Linked DNA regions of Homo sapiens: all the other regions are reported to be linked to region 1. The links are microRNA targets in miRTarBase. Many come from high-throughput screens and were not tested one by one. Region 1 holds a microRNA gene; each other region holds the end of a gene's coding sequence.
Evidence for each region. Region 1 holds the annotated microRNA hsa-miR-320e (AAAGCUGGGUUGAGAAGG, at 2,315-2,332, opposite strand). A microRNA usually pairs through its seed, bases 2 to 8, with sites in the 3' UTR of a target mRNA and lowers its output. Matches are read on the target gene's strand: a 7mer-m8 pairs with bases 2 to 8, a 7mer-A1 pairs with bases 2 to 7 and ends in A, and an 8mer does both.

Region 1 (3,347 bases):
CCCCCTCAGGTTCAAATGATTCTCCTGCCTCAGCCTCCCGAGTAGCTGGGATTATAGGTACCCGCCACCACACCCAGCTAATTTTTCTAGTTTTAGTAGAGACAGGGTTTCACCATGTTGGCCAGGCTGGTCTCTAACTCCTGACCTCATGATCCGCCCGCCTTGGCCTCCCAAAGTGCTGGGATTACAGGTGTGAGCCACCGTGCCTGGCCCAGAATCAGGATTTCTGTACAAGCGTGGCACCCACGGAGCTAGAGATGCTGTCTCAGACCTAATACCCAATGGAACATCCAAGAATATGGCTCTAATTGCAGGGCACACCATACAAAAATGGAGGCGCATGGGGCCCAGCGCAGTGGCTCATGTCTGTAATCCCAGCACTTGGGGAGGCTGAGGAGGGTGGATTACTTGAAACCAGCCTGGCCAACATGGTGAAACCCCGTCTACTAAAAATACAAAAATTAGCCAGGAGTGGTGGTGCGCACCTGTAATCCCAGCTATTTGGGAGGCTGAAGCAGGAGAATTGCTTGAACCCAGGAGGTAGAGGTTGCAGTGAGCCAAGACCACGCCACTGCACTCCATCCTGGGTGACGGAGCAAGACTCTGTCTCACACACACAAAACAATGGAGCCACAGGGTCTCATCACAGAATGGATGGTCCTCACCTGTCATCTGTCCTCATAGCCAATGCAGGTACATGGCCTTCATCTGTAGGCAGAGCCCCGATTTCAACATTCTCACTCAGAAGCATGAATAACAGGGACAGAGGACCTATATAGATCTTGACACTTGGGCTGAACCTTGAGACATCTTGGCTTAAAGAACTGTATGTTTTGGACAGGCGCGGTGGCTCATGCCTGTAATCCCAGCACTGTGGGAGGGCAAGGCGGGTGGATCATTTGAGGTCAGGAGTTCAAGACCAGCCTGGCCAACGTGGTGAAACCCCGTCTCTACTAGAAATACAAAAATTAGCCGGGCAGTAATGGTGTGTGCCTGTAATCCCAGCTACTCGGTAGGCTGAGGCAGGAGAATCGCTTGAGCCTGGGAAGTGGAGGTTGTGGTGAGCTGAGATCGCGCCACTGCACTCCAGCCTGGGTGACAGACTGAGACGCTGTCTCCAAAAAAGAAAACCTGTATATTTTTAAACTATGATTTAAGGAGATATGTATGGGTGCTGTTATGGACTAAATGTCTGTGTCTCCCCCAAAATTCTTATGTTGAAACCCTAACCTCCAATGCAACTATATCTGGAGACGGTGCCTTTATGGAGGTAATTAAGGTTAATTGAGGCCGAAAGAGTGTGGCTGTAATCCAATGGGACTGGTGACCTTTTTTTTTTTTTTTTTTTTTTTTTTTCTGAGACAATCGTGTTCTGTCACCTAGGCTGGAGTGCAGTGGCATGATCACGGCTCACCGCAGCCTCAACCTCCCAGGCCCAGGTGATCCTCCCACCTCAGCCTCTTGAGTAGCTAGGACTAGAGGTATGCACCACCATGCCTGGCCAATTTGTTGTATTTTTTAGAGACGGGGTTTCACCATGTTGCCCATGCTGGTCTCGAACTCCTGGACTCAAGCGATCCACCATCCTCCCAAAGTGCTGGGATTATAGGCATGAGCCACCATGCCTGGCCTTCCTTATAAAGGGAAGAGATACCAGGGATCTCTCTCTCCGTGTCCCATGTGAGCGCACAGTGAAATGATGGCCCTCTGCAAGGCAGGAAAGCAGGCTACACCAGAAACAGAACCCTGCCAGAATCTGGATCTTTGTCTTTCCAGCCTCTCACAATTCCAGGGATTTTGAGAAGTAAATGTCTGTCATTTAAGCCACGCAGGGTGGTATTTTGTTAAGGCAGCCCTGACAAACTAAGACAGGTGCCAGGTTGACAAGAGATGGACCCTGATAGTCATGTTAATGTGTCAGCTTGGCTAGGCGAGATCCACAGTTATTCAGACACTAATCTAGATGTTGCCATGAAGGTTGGTTTGTTTGTGGTTTTTTTTTTTTTTTTTTTTTTTGAGACGGAGTCTCGCTCTGTTGCCAGGCTGGAGTGCAGTGGCACGATCTCGGCTCACTGCAACCTCTGTCTCCTGGGTTCAAGTGATTCTCCTACCTCAGCCTCCCAAGTAGCTGGGACTATAGGCACATGCCACCACGCCCGCTAATTTTTGTATTTTTAGGAGAGATGGGGTTTCACCATGTTGGCCAGGGTGGTCTCAATCTCTTGACCTCATGATCCGCCTGCCTCAGCCTCCAAAGTGCTGGGGTTACAGGTGTGAACCACTGTGCCCAGTCAAGGTTTGTTTTTTCTTTTCACCTTCTCAACCCAGCTTTTCCCCGACTCCAGGAAGAACTGGGAAGAGAAGGCCCCATGGAGGTATTTTCTTTTCTTTTCATTTTTTTGAGACAGAGTTTTGCTCTTGTTGCCCAGGCTGGAGTGTAATGGTGCAATCTCAGCTCACTGCAAGCTCTGCCTCCCGGGTTCAAGAGATTCTCCTGACTGAGCCTCCCGAGTAGCTGGAATTACAGGCGTCCACCAACACGCCGGCTTTTTTGTATTTTTAGTAGAGACGGGGTTTCACCATGTTGGACAGGCTGGTCTCGAACTCCTGACCTCAGGTGATTCACCTGCCTCGGCCTCCCAGAGTGCTGGGATTACAGGCGTGAGCCACCGCACCCGGCCCAGTGGAGGTATTTTCTGGATGTGATGAAAATCCATAATCAGCTGACTGTAAGTGGGAGAGGTGATCCTGCTTGTTCTAGGTGGGTCTCATTCAATCAGCTGAATGTTTTAAAAAGCAGATCAGAGACTTTTCGGATGAAGAAATTCCACCTGTGGACATCAGCTTCAGCTTGTGCCTGAGTTCCCACTTGCCCTTCCTGATAGGATGGATTTTTTTTTCTTTTTCTTTTTATTGTTTTGTTTTTGTTTCTGTTTTCAGAAGGAGTCTCACTCTATCACCAGGCTGGAGTGCAGTGGCACAATCTCGGCTCACTGCAACCTCCTCCTCTCAGGTCCAAGCAATTCTCCTGCCTCAGCCTCCCAAGTAGCTGGGACTACAGGCGTGTGCCACCACGTCCGGCTAATTTTTTGTATTTTTAGTAGAGACGGGGTTTCACCATGTTAGCCAGGAGGGTCTCAATCTCCTGACCTCGTGATCCACCCGCCTCGGCCTCCCAAAGTGCTGGGATTACAGGCATGAGCCACCGTGTCCGGCCTTTTTCCTGTTTTTGAGCCAGGGTCTCGCTCTGTCACCCAGGCTGGTGTGCAGTGGTGCAATCAGGGCTCACTACAGTGTCGAGCTCCCAGGCTCAAGTGATCCTCCCGCCTCAGCCTCCCAAGTGGCTG
Region 2 (3,000 bases), not on the chromosome of region 1:
CATCTAGGGCCGCATCTTTTTATGTTTCCACACCCACAACCCAGTGCAGCCTTGGCCTCAGACTCCTTCCCTGAAATTAGAACCTGCCTCTGTGCTTCTCCCTCAGTAAACTGTTTTGTTTTCTTTGCTAGGCTGTGGTTACTGGTTCCCTCCACCGTCTCAATACAATGTTTCTGAGATACCCTCATCAGACCCACCAACCAAGACCCTCTGGCTCTTTGATATTGATCGGGACCCTGAAGAAAGACATGACCTGTCCAGAGAATATCCTCACATCGTCACAAAGCTCCTGTCCCGCCTACAGTTCTACCATAAACACTCAGTCCCCGTGTACTTCCCTGCACAGGACCCCCGCTGTGATCCCAAGGCCACTGGGGTGTGGGGCCCTTGGATGTAGGATTTCAGGGAGGCTAGAAAACCTTTCAATTGGAAGTTGGACCTCAGGCCTTTTCTCACGACTCTTGTCTCATTTGTTATCCCAACCTGGGTTCACTTGGCCCTTCTCTTGCTCTTAAACCACACCGAGGTGTCTAATTTCAACCCCTAATGCATTTAAGAAGCTGATAAAATCTGCAACACTCCTGCTGTTGGCTGGAGCATGTGTCTAGAGGTGGGGGTGGCTGGGTTTATCCCCCTTTCCTAAGCCTTGGGACAGCTGGGAACTTAACTTGAAATAGGAAGTTCTCACTGAATCCTGGAGGCTGGAACAGCTGGCTCTTTTAGACTCACAAGTCAGACGTTCGATTCCCCTCTGCCAATAGCCAGTTTTATTGGAGTGAATCACATTTCTTACGCAAATGAAGGGAGCAGACAGTGATTAATGGTTCTGTTGGCCAAGGCTTCTCCCTGTCGGTGAAGGATCATGTTCAGGCACTCCAAGTGAACCACCCCTCTTGGTTCACCCCTTACTCACTTATCTCATCACAGAGCATAAGGCCCATTTTGTTGTTCAGGTCAACAGCAAAATGCCTGCACCATGACTGTGGCTTTTAAAATAAAGAAATGTGTTTTTATCGTAATTTATTTCCCCCCAGCCATTGCTCACTCTGTCTAGACTTCCTGCCACTTCCAATTCTTCTGTGGCTTTTCCTGCCTTTCCTTTTGACCTCAGTAGTCCTATCCCTGGGAAGGCCACTTTGCTTCTCTACCTGAGCACCCCTGATTTCTGGAACGCTGCTGAGCCCTGCCTTACTTTTGCCCCTAGGGCTGAAGCTAGAGGCCTCCCCGTAATAGGCGGTGGAGTTGCTCTGTGAGGATGTTCATGGTAGACACTAAGAGGGCTGGGTGGGAGATGCTTGGCTCTGTGGCATCTGTTCAGCGAGGCTTTTCCTATATTGCATGGAGTTAGTCATTGTGATTGTAGCTTTATTTCATAATATATTAAGACTTGCACTGCTATTTACTAGCAGTGAGAAGAAACCTCAGGAAAGGATATGAAAAAGCAAGTGGCCAGTGTCTGGGATACTGGGCCTTGGTAAAGCAGAGGAGGGCACACCCACAGTCCTCTTATTCTCTGTTTTACTGCTTGTTTTGAGGTTCTGGGGTCTGGCAAAGAGGATGCAGTTTGACACCTGCAGCCCTTTCTCAATCCCACTAATGTCTTACTAATGTGGAACAGTCCATATTAGCTCCAGAGAGTGTCAAACCCAGAGAAATGTGTGCAAAAATGATACTCTTTTCTGCATTAGCCCCACCATTGTGTTCACCAATGCTTGGAACACTGCCTGAAGGCACTCATTTTTTAATTTTTATTTTATTTTTAATTTTTTATATCTTTATGAGACGATCTCACTCTGTCACCAGGTTGGAGTACAGTGGTACAATCACAACTCACCGTAGCCTCAAACTCCTGGGCTCAAGTGATTCTCCCACCTCAGGCACCCAAATAGCTGGAACTACAGGCATATACCGCCACACCCAGCTAATTTTATTTTTTGAAAAGACAAGGTTCCCTATGTTGCCCAGCTGGTCTTAAACTCCTGGGCTCCAGCAATTATCCCAGCTTGGGCTCCAAAAGTGCTGGGATTACAGGCATGAGTCACCATGCCTGGCCTCATTTTTTAAAACAAATGAATAAATGGACAAATGAGTAAATGAGAAAGTCTCACACCATGAAAGATGCTAGTCCAATGAGCTGAATACAGAGGTAATATAAATGTCTTCCAGCTGTTGCTTTTCTGTTCTCAAGCTGCCCCTCCTGGGGTAGGAGCATAATCTACATCACTGGGCAGTCACAGGACACTCTATAGCAAGGTTGTAGCGTCCTCTCCAGTGGGGGGAGAAAAGGAACTGTGCCTACCAAAGGTACTCTCTTGTCAGCAATTTCCATTTCTATACTTTATGGGACACTAGAAACTAAAAGCAACAAATAATCTGATATAAGTCCTTGTATAGTCATCCTTCAATTCAGTAGCAATATTTTCTGGTCACTACTAACCTGTATTGTATTAAAATGAGACTATTGGAAGGAAATGGTGCTAAAACTAATAACATCTCTTACCAACCTTTACCCAACTCCTGGGTTGGCAAACAGCTGACCAAACTGCCATCACCTCCCACTTGGAAGTGTATGGCCGACAGCATGAAATAGCTGAGCCCAGATGTTCCTTCTGCATCCTCCGAATCCCAGGGCTGGGTGTAGGTAGCCGTTGGAGGCCATCGCTACAGGGCACCTATCTGTTATCGCTGCTGTCCTCCCAACAGCTGTCTCCAGTTCTAGTTCCTTGGTTTTCAGGCACAGTGGGGGATGTTCTGCACCCAGTGGACTTCAAAAGAGTTTTGAAGACTTAATTTTTTGTAAAACAAGTACTTGAGATTTTGGTTTATCCATAATAGAATGTATTTCATTAGATTCTCTGATTCTATATAAGAATGTGAAAAGATTGATATATTGTTGTTAGAAATAATGTTATTTCTTTCCAATTTTTTTTTTTTTTTTTTTTGAGATGGAGTCTCGCTCTGTCACCCAGGCTGGAGTGCAGTGGTGTGATCTCGGCTCAC
Region 3 (3,282 bases), not on the chromosome of region 1:
TAATAAAACAAGGAAAGAATTTGAACAGAGGGAATGAGGCTCTGGTCATACTTCCAAAAAAGAACCTGGTCTTACCATGTTTATCTGTTAACCCTTGGGAGAGAGGGGGGATCTTCATCTCCACGTTACACAAAAATTAGAAAGAGAGAGGGAGGGAGAGGAGGAGAAAGTGCACATTTCAAAATGCAAGAACAGCACAGAATTATGAGCTGGGAGTGATGCTGGAGTGGGCAGGGGCGGCCTGATCTCCATGCGGCTTGCTCAGAGTGGGTAAACCAGGTTGGCTGAAACGAGGGTTTACGTGCAGGAAAGCTCCTGAAAGTTGGTTTTAAGGAGAGTGGTGACTTGTGCAAAATGATGCTTTAAAAATCAATTTGGCTGGGGTGTGCAGGAAGGATGGGGAGGGAGAAACCAAAGATAGGTAACAGACATTTGCCAGATGATAACGGTGGGGAAGAGGGGCAGGTGTAAAGAGGAGGTAGATCTTTCAGGGACCCCTGCTTGATGCCGCCTGCTGTCCCCACTGCATCCTAGCATTCTCTCTTCACTCTTGATAGAGACAGGCCTGAAATGACAGGCCACTTGCAGGCAATGCCCAGGGCACCATCCAGTCAGTCCAACTGGTTACACAGAGGGTTCTGGTGGACAATGGAGTGCTGGTTAAATGTTAAATGTTTCACATACGTAGCAAAGACAGGGGCTGGACAGAGGCATGGCTGGAACTCCCACCATGACCTCTCCAGCCCATCATATCTGTCATTTGGAAATCTCTGGCCTATCAAGACCCACTTAGTAACAGTTATGGCTTTCCCATGTTTATTCATCAAAACTAGGCATAATGGCCATGCTGAGCTTCTGATCAGCTGAAATACCCAGTGTTACCATGATGAGTTCATGTTAGCCCAGCCATAAATGTTTAGGAAACTTCAAAACAGCCTAGACTGCCTCCTTCCCCACTAGCTCTGAGGAGCCCAAGGGAAGCCAGGACTAAAGAGATCCCCAAGGCCCCAGCCAAACACTTTCCAAGCGCCCAGCTGACCATCAGCCTGAGCCCATCCCTGAGGCTCCGGGTGCGGGGAGCAGGGAGTGAGGGCACTGAGACAGAATGGCCTTCAAGCTCTGCTCAGCCAAAGCCAGCAGGCTGACATTGGAAGCTGTCGAGGGATGCACAAAAACCCAGCATGGGCCAGGTGTGGAGGCTCATGCCTGTAATCCCGGCACTTTGGGAGGTCAAGGCGGGCAGATCACGAGGTCAAGAGATCGAGACCATCCTGGCCAACATGGTGAAACCCCGTCTGTACTAAAAATACAAAAAATTAGCCAGGCATGGTGGCACGCACCTGTAGTCCCAGCTACTCAGGAGGCTGAAGCAGGGGAATCGCTTGAACCCAGGAGGCAGAGCTTGCAGTAAGCCAAGATCACGCCACTGCATTCCAGCCTGGCAACAGGGCAACACTCCATCTCAAAAAAAAAAGCCCAGCACAGGGCCCACAGCCTGGCTGCACACTAGGAAGTTATAATCACCTGGGGAGCTTTAAAACATGCCACCACTGGGGCTGACTGAACTGGTCCAGGTGGGACACAAGCAATGGTACTGTTTAAACAAGCCCCACGTGAACTCCTAGTTGGCAGGCGGGGAAGACAGACAGAATGTGGAAGTGCAGAATGACACTGCTGCTACAGGAGGCTCAGGATGGCATCCTAGAGGAAGTGTCCTTGTGTGGGACACTGCATCCGCAGGCATACACAGCCCAGGCTGCAAGGGGTGGAGGGAGAGAAAGCCCTGTTCAATGAGAGGTCCCACTGCTCAGAAACCAGACGGGAACATCTCTCCAGTCCGTGGAAATGCACAGGGGTGGGGCAGGGGTCACTCTGGGTCTCTGTCCTCAGTCACCATGACTGCTCACAGTTGCCAAAGCACTTTCACAGTGGCTGTGTTCTGAATGACAGCCTGGCACCAACCCTTAGAGGCACGTGGCCAGTTCCCATTACCCCAACTCTTGGATGGGGGAATGGAGCCTGGGGAAGTTACAGGACTTGTTCAAGCTCACCCAGGTAGGAGGGGGTGGAACTAGGACTTGAACCCAGACCTTCTGATTAGAACACAGCCTCCTCCAACAAGCCACCCAGCTTCCCAGGTCCCCTGACACTGGGGCAGGAGGGCTGCATCATTGCCAGAACAGACCAGACCCAGGCCCTGCTGATGTCCAAGGCACACTGTGGTCTTGGGGACACTATGTCTCAGGGAGGGGTTATTCCTGGAGGGCAGTCATGTCCGGTGTCCAGGCTGAGTCACGGCTGGGTGTCAAACATCCTCTGGCCAACAGGATCAAATCTCTATCCTCCTGTAACAGAGCTGTCTGAGGGAAACTGCCCTAGGGCTAAGGAGAGGGTTAAGAGGCCACGCCCAGGGGCTCACCACCCTCATCCCCAATCTCAAGACCCACCCTCCAGACCTGCCTTTGCTCTGCAGACCTGTTTTGGTTGTCCCCACCAATGCCCAACGCAGTGAGAAAATTCTACTTTGCTGCTGACACATCTACTTTTGAATTCATTTTTCTTCTACTGCTTTGGACTGTGAGTGTGGTTTCTGTCTTCTAAAAGTGCCAGACTGCAGCCTGTTTTAAAGAGTTCTTCTGATATTTTCCTGGGTTTAATTCAACTTTCTCCCTCTTGGCATTTATTCTTCTAGATTCTGGGAAATGTGAAGACAGGGCAAAATGAAATCCTGTAGGCTTGGGAGTCAAATGCAAGAAGGAGAAACTGAAGGCCAGCTGTCTTTTCTGGCTGCCCTCCCTATCACCCCACCTTCCCTTCCATGCAGAAAACCTGCTGAGAGCTGGCGTGCTTGGCCCAGGGCCACACAGGGCCTTCCTGCTAGTGGGATGTTCAAGAGCGCTTAGGTGGGAAGGTTTCCATTCAGCATCAGGGAGGTAGGTGGGGTCTTGGAGACCACGCGACGTGGAATAAAGGCTCCATCTGGCACAGGCTTTCAAGCTTTGTGTGGGCTCCTCTTTCTATAGCTTCTCCCCAGAATGAATCTTCTGATGGCGAATCAGGTGCGAGCTCCCCCGGAAGGACTTGCCGCACAGATTGCACACGTAGGGCTTCTCTCTGGTGTGGGTTTTATAGTGCTCAATGAGGGCTGACCGGTGCCGGAAGGCTTTGCCACACTCGCAGGTGTAGGGCTTCTTGCCGGTGTGGATTCTCTGGTGCTGGATCAGCGCAGAGCTGTGGCAAAAGGCCTTGCCACACTGACAGCACTCGTAGGGCTTCTCACCG

Region 2: miRTarBase lists ARSB as a target of hsa-miR-320e. Seed matches in the 3' UTR shown: 7mer-m8 at 1,999-2,005.
Region 3: miRTarBase lists ZNF70 as a target of hsa-miR-320e. The part of its 3' UTR that is shown has no 7-base or 8-base seed match.

What each region holds. Positions count from the first base shown.
Region 1 is chr19:46,706,980-46,710,326 of GRCh38, forward strand. It overlaps MIR320E (microRNA 320e), which reads right to left and starts at 2,375; the gene lies at 2,303-2,375. All of the region lies in intron 3 of PRKD2 (protein kinase D2), which reads right to left. RefSeq lists an enhancer at 2,870-3,347.
Region 2 is chr5:78,777,794-78,780,793 of GRCh38, reverse strand. It overlaps ARSB (arylsulfatase B), which reads left to right. Exons shown (of 8, transcript NM_000046.5): 8 at 132-3,000. The coding sequence ends at 397. Among named protein-coding and RNA genes, the nearest start is that of LHFPL2, 130 kb to the right of the region's middle.
Region 3 is chr22:23,740,783-23,744,064 of GRCh38, forward strand. It overlaps ZNF70 (zinc finger protein 70), which reads right to left. Exons shown (of 2, transcript NM_021916.4): 2 at 1-3,282. The coding sequence ends at 3,018. Among named protein-coding and RNA genes, the nearest start is that of ZNF70, 8.7 kb to the right of the region's middle.